Regions from separate parts of the Homo sapiens genome. Here region 1 is linked to region 2. A link means that fine-mapping ties the variant in region 2 to the expression of a gene that starts in the linked region. Tissue or cell type: whole blood. Region 2 holds a variant in brackets; the other region holds the start of a gene. All regions are shown on one strand. Distances are between the middles of the regions.

The links. PIP is the estimated chance that this variant, and not a neighbour inherited with it, causes the effect.
Region 1: CHLSN starts here. The variant in region 2 is fine-mapped to the expression of CHLSN in whole blood (TOPMed, PIP above 0.99).

The regions. Positions count from the first base shown.
Region 1 is chr7:1,133,280-1,141,381 of GRCh38, forward strand. CHLSN (cholesin) reads right to left here and starts at 4,968. Exons shown (of 5, transcript NM_001318252.2): 1 at 4,036-4,968. RefSeq lists silencers at 4,528-4,577, 4,588-5,037, 5,238-5,377 and an enhancer at 5,098-5,197.
Region 2 is chr7:1,042,019-1,050,120 of GRCh38, forward strand. The region is part of intron 2 of CHLSN (cholesin); the gene reads right to left. GPR146 (G protein-coupled receptor 146) reads left to right here and starts at 2,528. Exons shown (of 2, transcript NM_001303473.2): 1 at 2,528-2,640. RefSeq lists enhancers at 1-158, 1,647-2,202 and silencers at 2,308-2,797, 2,978-3,027. The variant G/C (reference allele first, on the strand shown) is at 4,577.

The DNA.
Region 1 (8,102 bases), 91 kb after region 2:
CAAGTGGAGGGAAGAGTGGGTGACCACTAAGGGGCACAGGGTTTCTTGTGGCAGAAGGAAAAAGTCTTAAAATTAGATTGTGGTGATGGTTTCACAATCCCTCGATATACTGCAAAAAAAAAAAAAAAAAAAAACTATAATCCCTCTCAAATTATTTACCATAAATTTAAAAATGTAACACCCAAGTGCGGCCAGGCACGGTGGCTCACGCCTGTAATCCCAGCACTTTGGGAGGCTGAGGCAGATGGATCACGAGGTCAGGAGATCAAGACCACCCTGGCTAACACAGTGAAACCCTGTCTCTACTAAAAATACAAAAAAAAAATTAGCCGGGCGTGGTGGCAGGCGCCTGTAGTCCCAACTACTCGGGAGGCTGAGGCAGGAGAATGGCGCGAACACGGGAGGCGGAGATTGCAGTGAGCCGAGATCAAGCCACTGCACTCCAGCCTGGGCGAGAATGAGACTCCATCTCAAAAAAAAAAAAAAACACCCAGGTGCTACTTTACGATAAATAAATAAATAAATGGGAGAAAGATCATTTGCTATAATGTTTGTTGTGAGACAAAATTTAGGCTGGAACACAGTGGCATAATCACAGCTCACTGCAGCCTCGACCACCCAGGCTCAAGCAATCCTCCCAACTCAGCCTCCGGAGTAGCTGGCACTACAGGTGTACACCACCACGTAGCTAACTCTTGTATTTTTTGTGGGAATGGGGTTTCGCCATGTTTCCCAGACTGGTCTCAAACTCCTGAGCTCAAGTGATCCTCCCACCTTGGACTGCTGGGATTGCAGGCGTGAGCCACCACACCTGGCCCCAAAATATATATATATATTTTTTTAATTCGCTGGGCATGGTGGTGCGTGCCTGTAGTCCCAGCTACTTGGGAGGTTGAGGCAGGAGAATCACTTGAGCCTAGGAGTTCAAGGGTGCAGTGAATCACGATCACGCCATGATACTCCAGCCTCGGCGACAGAGTGAGAGACTGTCTCTTAAAAGGGTGGGGGGCAAGGCTGAGCGCAGTGGCTCACACCTGTAATACCAGCACTTTGGGAGGCCGAGGTGGGCAGATCACCTGAAGTCAGGAGTTCGAGACTAGGCTGGCCAATATGGTGAAACCCCATCTCTACTAAAAATACAAAAATTAGCCAGGTGTGGTGGCGTGTGCCTGTAGTCCCAGCTACTCGGGAGGCTGAGGCAGGAGAATCACTTGAAACTATGGAGATTACAGTGAGCCGAGATCGCGCCACTGCACTCCAGCATGGGTAACAGAGTGACACTGTGTCTCTAAATAAATAAATAAATAGGCCGGGTGCGGTGGCTCACGCCTATAATCCCAGCACTTTGGGAGGCCGAGACAGGCAGATCACAAGGTCAGGAGATCGAGACCATCCTGGCTAACATGGTGAAACCCCGTCTCTACTAAAAAATACAAAAAATTAGCTGGGCATAGTGGCGGGTGCCTGTAGTCCCAGCTACTCAGCTACTCGGGAGGCTGAGGCAGGAGAATGATGTGAACCTGGGAGGCGGAGCTTGCAGTGAGCCGAGATCGCACCACTGCACTCCAGCCTGGGCTACAGAGTGAGACTCCTTCTCAAAAATAAATAAATAAATAAATACATAAAGAGTCATCTACCTGCCCTGTCTCTGACTCCTTTCCTTCCCCCATCCCATCAGGCTTTTGCCCCAAACACCCTACCACAATGACACCCACGTGGCTAAATCCCATTGCCAACTCTCAGTATGCAACTTATTTGACCTAACAGCGTTGGACTGTTGATCCTTCCTTCTCTCTTGACAGGCATTTTTCACTTGGCATCCAGCACAGACAGCAGAACTTCTGCTTTTGCTCCCACCTCTTAATCGCCGTGTCCTTGAACACTGAAGGACCCAGGCTTAGTGCTCAGCCTCCTCACTCCCTCGTGATCCCATTCAGTCATGTGGCTTCAAATACCAACTAGACGCTGATGACTTTGTTTCCTCTCTTTACAGTCTCTTATTAACCCTCTCCTTCAACTACACGCCAACTCAACTGTGTATATATATAGCTATAGTTGTATGTATATACATATAGTTATATATATATACATGGTCATATATGTGTACCTAGACATATATACACATATATATACTTGAACTCCTGACCTCTGTTTACACTGTTTATACACATATATCTACATGTGTGTATATATATGTATGTGTATGGCCGGGCACGGTGGCTCACGCCTGTAATCCCAGCACTTTGGGAGGCCGAGGCGGGGAGATCACTTGAGGTCAGGAGTTTGAGACCAGCCTGGCTAACATGGTGAAACCCCATCTTTACTGAAAACACAAAAATTAGCTGGGTGTGCTGGCACCTGCCTGTAAACCCAGCTACTCGGGAGGCTGAGGCAGGAGAATCGTTTGAATACGAGGTGGAGGTTGCAGTGAGCCGAGATCGCGCCACTGCACTCCAGCCTGGACAACAGAGTGAGACTCCACCTCAAAAAGAAATATATATATATATATATATACACAATTTATTTATTTATTTATATAAAATAAATATATAAATATATTTACATAAATATGTATTTATATAAATATATAAAAATATATATGAATATATAAATATATAAGTATATATAAAAATATATATAAGTATATATAAATATATAAGTATATATAAATATATATAAATATATATAAGTATATATAAATATATAAGCATATATAAATATATATATAAAATATATATGTATATATAAATATATGTATAAATATATAAGTATATATAAATATATATAAATATAAGTATATATAAATTTATATAAATGTGTATATAAATATATATACATAAATATATATAAATATATACATAAATATATAAATATATATACATAAATATGTATAAATATACATAATTATAAATATATACACAAATATATAAATATATATAAACATATATAAATATATAAAATATATATAAATATATATAAACATATATAAATATATAAAATATATATAAATATATATAAACATATATAAATATATATAAACATAAATATATAAATATATAAACATATAAATATATATAAACATATATATAAATATATATAAATATATAAACATATATATAAATATATATAAACATATATATAAATATATATAAACATATATATAAATATATATAAACATATATAAACATATATAAATATATAAACATATATAAACATATAAATATATATAAACATATATAAATATATATAAACATATATATGAACATATATAAACATATATAAACATATAAACATAAACATATATAAACATATATAAACATATATAAATATATATAAATATATAAAAATAAATATATATATGCGGATGTGTGTATAAACTGTGTATATATATAACTATATATATAACCATATATATGTACTTATATATATCATCTACACATATATCATCTCAAGCTTAAGAATTCGTAATCAATACCCCTGATCACCCTCCACAAACCTGAGCTTCCTAGTGTTCATCCTCTCCATAAACATCCATCTGATGAGGTTCACATAGTAGCTCAAGCTTAAAACCTTGGTCCATCCATAAATCCTCTCTTTCTCACATACTCGTCCAACCCACCACAAACTCCTGTTGGTTTACCACTGAAATACACCCAGAATGTGACTCCCTTAAGATCCCATAGGTACCCAGTCCAAGCCACCACCTCTCACGATGGCTTTTAAACTCCTAAATCAGATGGTGTGTCACCTCCACTCAAAAAACTTCCCAAGCTGTCCCCTTCCACTTGGAGGGAAAGTCAAGGTCCTTGCCACTTGGTAAGGTCCACACGACTGCCCTGGCCCCTCCTCGCATCTCTGGGAACTCACCTCCTCTTTCTCTCTCTGTTCCCAAATTGGCTGCAGCCACACTGGGCTCCCTGCTGTTTCCCCTGCACCTGCTGTTTCCTCGACCTGGAATGTTCTGGTGCCTCACTCCTCCTCCTGCTTCCTTTCCATTCTCAAAACCCCTGTTCTCATCTTCTCCATGGCACTTACCATCACCTGCTCTGTGCACCTTGTTCATCTGTCTCTCCCCTCCAGAATGGAAGTTCACTAGATCACAGACTTGTCTCCACTTGTTGACAGCTGTAGCCCAATGCCCCGAACAGTGCAGGAGGAACCCAATGAACGTTTTTTAAAAATGAATGAATGAATGACGGAAGGAAGGAAACGGAAAGCATGCTTATGATGGAAAGTGAGGCCAAGCGCGTTGGCTCACTCCTGTAATCCCAGCACTTTGGGAGGCCGAGGCAGGAGGATCCATCGCTTGAGCCCAAGAATTCGAGACCAGCCTGGGTAACATGGTGAGACCCCATTTCTACAAAAAACATTTTTAAAAATTATCCGGGTGTGGTGGCGCGCGCATGTGGTCCCAGCTACTTGGGAGGATGAGGCGGGAGGACGGCTTGAGCCCAGGAGGTGGAGGCTGCAGTGAGCTATGATCACGCCATTGCACTCCAGCCTGGGTGGCACAGCGAGACACTGCCTCAAAAATTGAAAAAGAGAAAGTGGGAGCTGAAAGCCTCGGAGGGCAATCAGGGCGTCTTCAGAGAAAGACAATGAAACCAGAGCCACTGCAAGCCCTGACGGCCTGAAACCTAGGAGCCAGCTGAGTCCCTTCCACTCGCCCGCGCTGAGTTAACCCAGAGGCGGGTGCGGGTGTCGGAGCCCGCGCCGGGACGCACCGGCCGCACCGGCCGCACCAGCCTCCCCAGCACCGCGGACCCCAGGGCCGCCGCCCGGTCGCGCCGCGCCGGGCCTCCGCGCACCCACGTGGAGGGGGCGGAGCCCCGCGGGAGCCCGCCCCGGGGCTCTGGGTCTCCTGGCGCCCTGACCCGCCGGCCACCCCGCCGCCGCCCCACGCGCCTACCTGCGCCCACCTGCGCCCACGTCGCCCACCTAAGCGTGAACAGCTGCGTCGCGGACGCCGCCTTCCGGCAGGGACCCGCGCCCCAGGTAAGCGTTAGTCCCGCCTTCAGGAGTGCGGAGCCTCCCATTGGACGAGGTCTGCGTCCGTCTCTCCGCCGGCTAATGGCAAGCGGCGGCAGCACGGGGGGCGGTTCCAGGACCGGGCGCGGGCTACTGACGCCATCTCTAGAGGCCTAGAGTTGCTTGGAGAGGAGCTGGTTGCCAAGGCAACCCGCCCTGCCCAGAACAAGTGCAGATGACTAGGTTTGGGCCCCGCAGGGCTTGGGGGTCTGGGGTGCAAGCTGCCCCGGCCGGGCTGGCGTCCCGGGGTGGGGCCTCCGCCGAGGGTCCAGGGTATGGAGCTCGGCTCGGAGTCGAAATGGATGAGCTACGGCTATTGGGATCAACAGGGCTAGGACTTAAACTTCGTGCTGAATTTAAAAAATCAGGATAGGTGCTAAAAAATACACAGGGTGGGTAGTGTTATAATAATGCTTGTGTCCGGGAGCGGTGACTCACGCCTGTGATCCCAGCATTTTGGGAGGCCCAGGCGGGCGGATCGCTTGAGCTCAGGAGTTCGAGACCCGCCTGGCCAACATGACGAAACCCCGTAACCCCGTCTCTGCTAAAAATACAAAAATTAGCCAGGCGTGGTGGCAGGTGCCTGTAATCCCAGCTACTCGGGAGGCTGAGGCAGGAAAATCGTTTAAGCCCGGGAGGTGGAGGTTGCAGTGAGCCGAGATCGTGCCACTGCACTCCAGCCTGGGCGACAGAATGAGACTCTGTTTTAAAAAATAAAAAATAAATTAAAAAAATAAAAATTAGCCGGGTATGGTGGCACGTGCCTGTAGTTCCTGATACTCTGGACGCTGAGGTGGGAGGATCGCTGGAGCCTGGGAGATGGAGGCTGCAGTGAGCTATGATCAAGGCACTGCACTCCAGCCTGGGCAACAGAGCCAGACCCCGTCTAAAAAAAAAAAAGAAAAAAAAGCATGCTTTCAAGTCACCCAGTAAGTTAAGTGCTTGGCAGCCGTATCAAGTATGATGTACGTTGCCTCAGGAATCCAAAGGTGACAAGCAAAGAAGGTGCACTCTTCCTTACTGGTAGAAGATTGTATTTGGTTCCTTTTTCTGCATAACAAATTAACCCAACATTTAGCAGCCTAAAAGAACATTTATTTTTTCATGGTATCCGCGGTCAGGAAAGTGGGCGTGGCTAAGCTCTGTGCCTTTGCCTCAAGGGTTCACCAAGTTGTGGTCAAGGTGTCCCCCCAGGGTTGTGGTTTCATCGGAAAGCTTATCTGGAATGATCCACTCCCAAGCTCACACACACGGATATTGTAAGGACTCAGTCCTCCAAGGTCATTAGAGAAGGGCCTCAGCCTTGCTGGCTGCTGCCCAAAGGCCACCCTCAGTTCCTTGGTACATGGGCCTTACCACAAGGAAGCTCACAACACTGCAGCTGGCTTGCCTTAGACGGTGCAAGCACACACAAGAGGAGGCACACACAAGACGCACATCACAGTCTCCTTGCACCCTAATCTCAGAAGTGACTTCCCTAGGCTTTTGCCATATTCTGTTCATTAGAAGTCGGCCGGGTGCGGTGGCTCACACCTGTAATCCCAGCACTTTGGGAGGCTGAGGTGGATGGATCACTTGAAGTCAGGAGTTCAACACCAGCCTGGCCAACGTGGCAAAACTCCATCTCTACTAAAAATACAAAAATTAGCCAGGCATGGTGGCATGTACCTATAATCCCAGCTACTCAGGAGGCTGAGGCATCAGAACCTATTGAACCCGGGAGGCAGAGGTTGCAATGAGCTGAGACCGCGCCACTGCACTCCAGCCTGGGCGACAGAGCAAGACTCCAGCTCAAAAAAAAAAAAAAAAAAAAAGTGAATCATGGCCAGGTGCAGTGACTCAGGCCTGTAATCCCAGCTCTTTGGGAGGCTGAGTCAGGAGGATGGATGGACACCAGGAGTTCAAGACCAGCCTGGGCAAACAGTAAGACCTCATGTCTACAAAAATAAAAATAGAAAATTAGCTGGGTGTGGTGGTGCACGCATATAGTCCCAGCTACTTAGGAGGCTGAGGTGGAAGGATTGCTTGAGCCTGGAAGATGGAGGCTGCAGTGAACTATGATCACACCACTGCACTCCAGCCTGGGTGAAAAAAAAAAAGGAAAAAAGGAAAATAATTTTTTTTCATTTTTATTTTTGGAAATTGATATGGTTTGGCTGTGTCCCCACCCAAATCTCATCTTGAATTGTATCTCCCATAATTCCCATGCATTGTGGGAGGGACCTGGTGGGACATAATTGAATCATGGGGGCAGTTTCCCCCATACTGTTCTCTTGGTAGTGAGTAAGTCTCATGAGATCTGATGGTTTGATAAGGGGAAACCCCTTTTGCTTGGTTCTCATTTTCTCTCATCTGTTGCCATGTAAGATGTGCCTTTTGCCTTCCGCCAAGACTGAGAGGCCTCCCCAGCCATGTGGAACTGTGAGTCCATTCAACTTCTTTTTATTTATAAATTACCAGTCTCAGGTATGTCTGAATAGCAGTGTGAATACTGACTAATACAGAAATGCTGAAAGGACTTGGATGCAATGACATCCCAGTGGCACTGAGCACTCCTGGCACCCAGAACACTGCTCCTAAATACCATCCCCCATGAATACGGACCAGGGCTCCTGGGAGAAATGGCTGATCCCAGGGCTGTGGCAGGGAGAGCTCAAGATGGGCCTTGAATAGGTAAATCTGAACATCCTTTACAAGATAGCCTTGTAAGGCTCTCTGGGGTCATCTTCACACATTCTCAGGCGATACCCTTGTCAGGCTATCTAGGGTCATCCTCACATACTCTCACGTCATGTCTGGCACCCGTCTTTCTTGGTTGTTGAGTCTTCCAAGAACAAGGACTGTCTTTCCATTGATTTGCATCTACTATTGTACCTTTCATGAAACACACATTTTTCTCTTTTCTTCCCAAAATAATACTTCATGAATCATGTTTTAAAGTTTTATCCAATATAGGTCTTACGTATGTCCTAAGTTTATTCCTATGTGTTTTATCTTTATTACCATTGTAAATGGAGTTTTCCTCTTCCATTACATCTTCTGATTATTGTTTGTGTGAATGAAGGTTTTTGATC
Region 2 (8,102 bases):
CTCGGCAGTGCGCGGGGCTGCAGAATCAGGTGCACAACTAGGGCATCCCCCACCCGCAACACACACGGCACACAGGAGCCTCGGCAGTGTGCGGGGCTGCAGAATCAGGTGCACAACTAGGGCACCCCCCACCCGCAACACACACGGCACACAACCACAGAGGCACGGCCCCAGGCCAGGAGCGCACAACTGCCCTCAAATGCCCTCAGCAGCCACGGCACACAGCCACAAACACATGACCCCAGGCCAGGAGCACACAACTGCCCTCAAACACCCTCAGCAGCCACACAGGGGAGGCCACGTCCACGTGACTTCAACCATCAACACTAGACTAGGGTGCAACCGCGAAGCTGAGTCAGGGCCACACGCCCCCCTACGCCCCAATCTGTGCCCACCCTTCCCCCCACCAACTGAGTCTTGTACAGGGGCTGGCCAGGACCCTTGGATACGCAGCTGCAGCCTCTGGAGAGTGTTTACACCTCCAGCTACGAGTACTTATTGTGGTTCAGGTGGAGGGTGGTTCCCTCTGACGATCTCCCCAGGACACACACGAGCTTTCTGCCATTCTCCCTGGCAGGACTGGCCTGCTTGGCACAGGAAGTCTCTGCAGATAAGGCGGTCTGCAGTGACCTGAAAGCTCAGTGGCTCAGAGGAAGCTAACCTCTAGCATTCCCCAGCCACAGAGCACCCCTGTGGGTAGGACCCACAGAGCCTGGCATTACAGGGACCAGACAGCACGGTGCATACTCTGACCAGGGATTCTGAGGTCTTGGGCCATTTATACCATGGAGATAACGAAGCTTACTCTTAGGCGGGCTGCTAGGAGGGCCCAAAGTCCCAAACCCTGATCTAAAAAGCCAGAATACCCCTGGGTTCAAATCCTGGCTCCACGGCCTGCAGTGTGACCTGGGCTAAGTTGCTTAAGTTTTCACAATTAAATTTAAAATGCATGGCCGGGCACAGTGGCTCACACCTGTAATCCCAGCACTTTGGGAAGCCCAGGCAGGCGGATCACTTGAGGTCAGGAGTTCGAGACCAGCCGGACCAACATGGTGAAACCCCATCTCTACTACAAAAAAAAAAAAAAAAATTAGCTGGGCATGGTGGCACGCACCTGTAATCCCAGCTACTCAGGAGGCTGAGGCTGCAGTAAGCCAAGATCGTGTCATTGCACTCCAGCCTGGGCAACATGACAGAAACTCTGTCTTTAAAAAAAAAAAATATTAAAATGCACATGGTGACCTATCTCATTGACGCTAAGGCGTACTCTCACTTTATCATCTCTAATGTGAGGCTGCGCCTTAAAATCAGCAGTATGTCGGAATGCAGTGGGCAGAGGGCCTTCTTTTTAGTAATCCATAAAGTAATGGCATAGCTAACACTAATCAATCGTGTCTTAGGTTTGATGAAATACGGACGTATCTACCTCAAAACAATGGTTGAGGCTCAGAACAGAACCTGACACAGAATACGCCCTCAGGTATCGGTGTTGGCTGCTTGTGACTGACTTTGGCAAGTAAGATCAGTACCCGGCACCTCTGGGCACACAGGGCCCGGGCTGCATCCACTGTGCCAGGGACCTGGTGCCGGGCTGGGCAGCAAGTCAGTATCACATCAGCAGGCGTGGGCCGTGGTGAGCCTCTCCCTGCCCTCCCGCTGGAATAGAAAGCTGATCCCGACGTCCCACTCCGACCCACGGTCAGGAAGCCGTCCTGTCCAGGAAGGTGGCTGAGGTACATCCCTGAACACAGTAGGCCACAGCATCATGCAGCGGAGGGCCAGTGGCCGCTATTCTTCCTGCTGGTGTTCCACTCGGCCCGCAGCTCACAGCAAGTCTATGCGGAACTGTGCAACCCACATGCTTTGATTTTCAGAAATGTTCTTAGATCCTGAACCAGAATGTGCTGCAGGGGGGACTGTTTCACCTCAAAAATTACAGCAAAGTAAATGTCCTTGTTTCAACTTTTCCAATGTTTAACTTGTAACAATAGCTACAAAAGTAATCAGGCAGCAATGTGTTTCTTTAAACGGCTTTCCTGTGAGTGTTCCGTTTACAAAGAAAATCCTAAAACCAGGAAGTAATTGGTGACTTTGGAAACAGCAAGCAAACTTCGGTGAAGAAAGAGGGGCAGGTGTACCTGGAAGGACTAACTTGCAGCCACTCATTTCCTTTGGAGGGCGGTGGGGCCTGCACCCTGCAGATTAGGGTATATTCTGACTCAGCAAAATAGGCACCAGCGCCTGTAAAAAGAAACCGCGCTGGGCACTAAGAGAATTCTCAAAAACTCCCAGAGCCCTGGGTGTGTGTCCTCCCACAGGGAATCTCGCACGAGTTCGTCAAATGGCTGGTCTCAGGTTACACAACCAGCACTGCCTCCACCGCCACCGCCCCCCAACCTCACTGGTCCGAGCGGTTCCCCGCGGTCTAGCCGCGAGGGCGGGGCCGGGGGGCGGAGGCCAGGGCGGGACCAAGGCTGGGGGCGGGGCCAGGCATGGCTGCCGCTCGCCGGCCGGGGGCGGGGCCGACGGTCACGTGTGTACACAGGGCCCGGGCGGCGTGCGCGCCGTGAGCCCCGCCGCCTCCGCCAGCCCGAGCTGCCCGCCCGGCGGCGACTGCGCCGGCCGCCGCCCAGCAAGCCGGTGAGTGGGGCCCGGGAGCCTGGGTCGGGTCGGTGGGGCACACCCCAGTCTCCGCCTGGGGAGGGAGCCAGCCCCAAGCTGCTGTGGCTCCCACGGCGGGCGCTGCGCTTACTGGGACCCGGGTCCTCTGGCCGCTGCCCACTGCGGGGCTCCGTGCCCTTGCCAGGAGGGGACCGCTGTCCTCCGGCCGCGCTCCGAGCTGAGCCCCGGGGGCGGGCTTTCGGTCATTAACCTGGTGATGGCAGCTGAATCTGCTGCTGGCGTAGGCGGCACAGCGCCGCCACCGGCTCTCCCATGTCCGACAGGGCACCACTGATCCTGCTCTCCTGGGCCACTATGGTGACTGCTTTCGGCCCCTTCTGTGATTAGTATTTTAAAGTGAGTTTTGGATCTGTGTCTACATGGAGGTGTCGGATCTGCTGTCAGTTGTCTTGGACAGTTGGCAGGGCATGGGACGGCTCTTTCAAAGCTTCACTGGAAGGCAGTGCTCTCCAGCCGCCAAACCACCACTACCAGCAGCAGAAAACCCACTATTAAGTTAGTATTACAAACCTGGCAAGTCAGTTCTCTAAATTAGGCATAAGTCTATGAATCTTGATGTGACTGGTCACAGTGGCTTATCTCTGCATGCATGCTACGTGGTGGACCAGAGGATAATTCTGTATTCGTCGTCCACAGCCTTTGATCTCTTCCCTGCCCATGAAGATGTACTTGAGTCCTCCATTCCACTTTAAATAGCCAGCTCCTGTCCACACGGAACAGCACGACATCTTTTATCTTTTGCTACCTGCAGCACCTAGCAGAGGCCAGCATTCAATAACAGAGGGCCAAGAGGCTTGCTTTAAAGGCCTCTGCAAACTTGTATGAGTAAAATGGTTCTGACCATGTTCCCAGGCTCCTCACGCATAGTGGTGATGAGATAGTCTACCGTCCTAACTGGGGCACCGTTGAGAGTGAACGGAGGCACTGTTAATAATTAGACGAAGTGCACACTCACAGTACCCATGACCTGCTGTGCAGCTCCTTCAAGAACTACTGTAAGGCCTGGCTCCCCAACCAGAACCCCTGTTGTCTTCCTCAATGAAGAAGGCCTCTGAAGACAAGTGACTTAAGAACATAGTTTATATGTATTGAATACTGTTGTGCCTTTTCACAGAGAAGAGGTCGGGGCCAGAGCAGCTCACTGCCCGACGCCACACACATCCGTGCTGGCGTCCACGTGTCATCCTGCCTCTCTAGCCAGCATGGACATATCCTGAGGATGGAGGACAGAGGAACACAGATTTAGGGCAGAATGTAAATGTGAAAGTTGACTTGGAGTCCCTGCAACTCATAAGCCCCAGTAGGCTGATGAAGAGAGAAGGGCAAAGGGCGCGCACCTCATGTGGGTCTTAGGTTAGGATGTAAAGGCTGATTATGTCTATCATACAATGAATCAATGGCATACTGCACAGATCGCTGCATGGGGAAATATGCTCGTGTAATTTACAGTCGGAAGAGGGACATGCTGCTCACTGGGGCAGGGAGAAGAAGGGGCTCCTCAGGGAGCTGCAGCTCTCACAGCCCCTAGGATGTCACCTGGAATCCTGAAAAAATAACTGCCGCCTGGCCTTTAATGACCCAACCACAGCGAGGTCTTGCCTTTGCAGAAGGAAATTATCACCCAGAGAACCCGGCCGACCGTGTCATGCACACGACGATCCCACGGTGCTGTTTTCTGTCAACAGTGTTTCCCAGCCATTCCCTCCTGCCTGCCAGCTCCTCTGCTCTCCAGGGCTTTCACTAACCCACCTGCCCAACTGACCAGCATTAGGCTGTCCAGTTAGCCCACATCTGTCCAGGGGTCTCAAAGGCTCAGGACCCCAAGACACCATCCAGGTAGCCAAGAGGACAGGGAACCCAGTCTGGAGAGTAGAATAACGTTTCGCTCCAATTT[G/C]AGATCCCAAAATGAGATGCTGCCCGGGACCAGAAGTCAGTTTCTTAGGAGCGTGCTGTCTACCCAGGAGCCTCCGTGTGCAAACAAAATACCCCCTTGAGCAGCAGAGGGACAAGGTGGAGGTGGGGCAGGTGTCTGTTCATCCCCACAGAGCCACACCCAGGTCCCTTCCTGCAAAGGCCAAGGACTTTCCCCATTTTAATTGGAACCAAAGCAAGCCTTGCAGACCACTGTCGCTACCACAGCTAGTGTGATGAGGAGAAATAACCTGCTGGCTCCTCCCTGGGAAACAACCAAGGTGGTGATAAGATCTGCGGCTCAGAGCACTTCCCTGCAGGTTAAGGCCACGCCTAGTAAACCGGGGCTCGACTGAGGAGCCCCGGCAGGTGCCAAGCCTGCCCAGAGTCTGCAGTAGAGACTCTCTGTTCTTGGCCATGTCTTTGAATTTCTGAGGAAGTCTTTTTTGTTTGTTTTTGTTTTTCCCTGGTCTGATGTACCTGGAGAGGGAATTAGCCTCACACCCAGTTAGGGAACAAAAAGCCAAGTAAACAAAAGAATGCTGTTCCACCTTCCTCCAGGGAACTGGCGCCCATAGCTGCAGGCACAGGTGCCCAGCCCGCTCACTGGCCCAGCAAGGTGCTTGGTCTCAGGCCCCCAGAGCCCGTCCTGGAGCCGCAAACATGCTCGCTATTATCCATGGAAAAAGAGAGGCATTCTCTTTGTTTATAGTCTAAGCCAAGTCACCTGATTCACTCTCACTACTCTGCAGTTTGGAATTGTAAAAAGCAAAAGGCTACAAAAATCAAAACCATCCACCTATGTAATGAACCATTTCTTATCACAGCCCAGGAAGGCACAGATAGGAATCAGTGTGCGTAAGCTCTCCACGTGGAAACCCTGTGAAAACAGCAGCCTTTCCTAAGCATCTGGCTCCTAGGAGCTGGATGTTAATTGTTGCTAAAGCCTGGGTTCATTACTACAAAAGAAAATAAACATTCCAGAGTCATTTTGAAAGCATTTTGATTGTTCTAGAATATTCACCCAAGGTTGAGCGTCTCATGGTGCATGGCAGGTTCGGCCAGGAGCTGGCCGTGGCCTTTCCACTCCTTTCCTGCCATCCTGAGGATGCAGTGCCTGGGGCCTCGCAGTTCTCTTTCCACTCAAATCTAAGGCTCTAAAGCTTCAACAACTGTCCGGGGACAATAAGAAGCGCTGAGTCCCCATCCTGCCTGCTCTCCTTTCTACTCAGTGGGGAAATTGGATCACTCGCCTTGGTGGATCACTCGCCTTGGGGAAAAGCCTTTTACGTCACTGAATACATCCCCTTCTACGGTTTTCATCCAACAGTCAGCCAGGCTGCTGCAGCACACATAAAAACTTCCCCTGCCTGCAAAGAGCTCCAAGTAGGTGGGAAAGAGATGGATGTGCGGACAGGCTTAACCCAGCAAAGACTGGCGGAGGGGTGTGGAGACAGTGGTCAGGGGTGGGTTCCCGGGGGTACTGATGCCCAAAATAAAATGTCAAGGACGAGCCAGTGTTTGCTGAGAGAACGAGGGGAAGCGAGAAAGGGTGTTCTAGGCAAGGGATCAACATCCGCAAAAGACAGTGTGAAAGAGAGCACCCGGAAACTTCGTGGGGATCACCGGGCGTGGGACTTGCCGGCCCCAGCTCTGACAGGGCCCTAAGCAACAGAGGAAAGAACTTCCCGACTAACAGGGACAGCAACATCAAAAGCGATGGCTTTTGTGAAACTAATTCAGCCACCTTGGAGCAGAGGATTCCTCTGCTGGTTTCTGTTTCTGCCAGCTCTGTGCAGTGCAGGCGCTATGATGCTCTCTCTCTCTCACACACACATACAGGGACCCGGGTGCCTCTCAGGTTGAGAGGGGTGGTCACCATCCCCACACTCAGGCCCCCTCTGTCTCCAGGCCTGCTGCTTCTGAACAGGCCTGGGGCAGTCCATTTCTATTGGGAAACCCTATCAAAGTTAGCCCCGGGTTTCAGCCAAGTTCACCTCACTGCTCACAGACATTCATTATTAACAGACTGTTTGATAGCACTTTGGGCTCTTTTTAAATAAGACATAGGAAGAAAGATGCCAACGTCTCACTTGAAATGCTCCTGACAGCTAGCCTGACGGGGTCCTGTCGCCCCTGTCCACACCCTGCTATGGCCATGGTCTCCACAGCCGCACATGGGCTCCAGACATTTTCACGAGTTATGAACCAAAGAGAACCAAGACCCCTGGAGCAGGTTCTCCTTCTCAGTCCCATGTTCCTTTGAAAGCAATGAATAGAGGCCAGGGAAGCAAGTGTTTATACTCCAGTTTAGTACTAGTGAAACATCGGGAAATTCATTGTGTTGGTATCAAAGCCCCAACTCAGAACATAAAAACCATAAAACTGCAAAGCCTCTGCAGTCTGAGCGTGCGCTCCCCAGGCCTCCGCTGTCTGAGCGTGCGCTCCCCAGGCCTCCGCGGTCTGACCCTGTGCTACCCATGCAAGCGCCACCCACAGGTGCGTCCTGGGGGCTGCCTCCTCCTCCACGTTGGCCAGCAGTGTGGGGTGTGACGGGGCCCATGTTGTTGTCACCCCCACCCTGCCCCACGTTTCCCCTGCACACGTGTCCGTTCACAAAGATTCTGAGCAAAAGGTCACAGAACAGCTTCCTCTGCCCTTTATATGTGGGGAGGAGGCCAAAGATCTGCAGGCGTCATCATTCCAGGCCAGGGCTGGTAACAGGGAGCAAGTGCCGGCACCCTCTTGTGCTTCACATGGGTTGGTTTACTTAACCCTCCTGTCTCATGAAGATTTTTACTAAGCCTGGGGAAACCGAGGCACACAGCAAGGATGTCACCTGCCTGCAAAGGCACCTGTGTGCAAGCCAGGACTGGAAAAGCTCAGCCTGCAGTGCACATGCTTGCTGCCCGCTCCAGAGCCCAGGCCCTTAACCACTTCCTTCCTAGGAAGACGGAGGGCGAGGGAGTTTCTTACAGCGCTTTATGTCAACTCCTGCTGCTGCCCACCACTAATCCAGGCCCCTGCAGACAGCAGGGCACGGTCCTTCCTATTAGCAGGCTTACTACGAAGCCCTGTCTAACATTCCCTCATGTCAGGTAGAAGGAATTAGACCAGAGGTCAAGGCAGCGGCTGGAATCAGTGGTGCTTTCTCAAAGTAGGAAAACAGTTTTAGGACTGTTTTCGGTCAAATTTTGGGCACCACTGTACTGGGTTCTATGACAGAGAAGCCACCAAGGTCCCGTGCGAGGAGCCCTGGGCAGGGACAGCTGAAGCTGTGCACCTGGGCCCTCCTGATTGCCTCCCACCAGCCAGGCCTGGCAGCAGCCAGCAGCCACCCCACCCCACCCCAACAAGGAGAGCTGCCCCACACTGTCGGCCCCCAAAGCTCAGGACACACGGGCCCTCCCAGGTCTCTCTGGCGGGCTAGGCCTTGGCAGGGCCCCCTCAGCGGGCCCCACTCTGAACCGCAAGCACAGGGTCTTCTGCAGTGTGAGACCTGCTGTCAG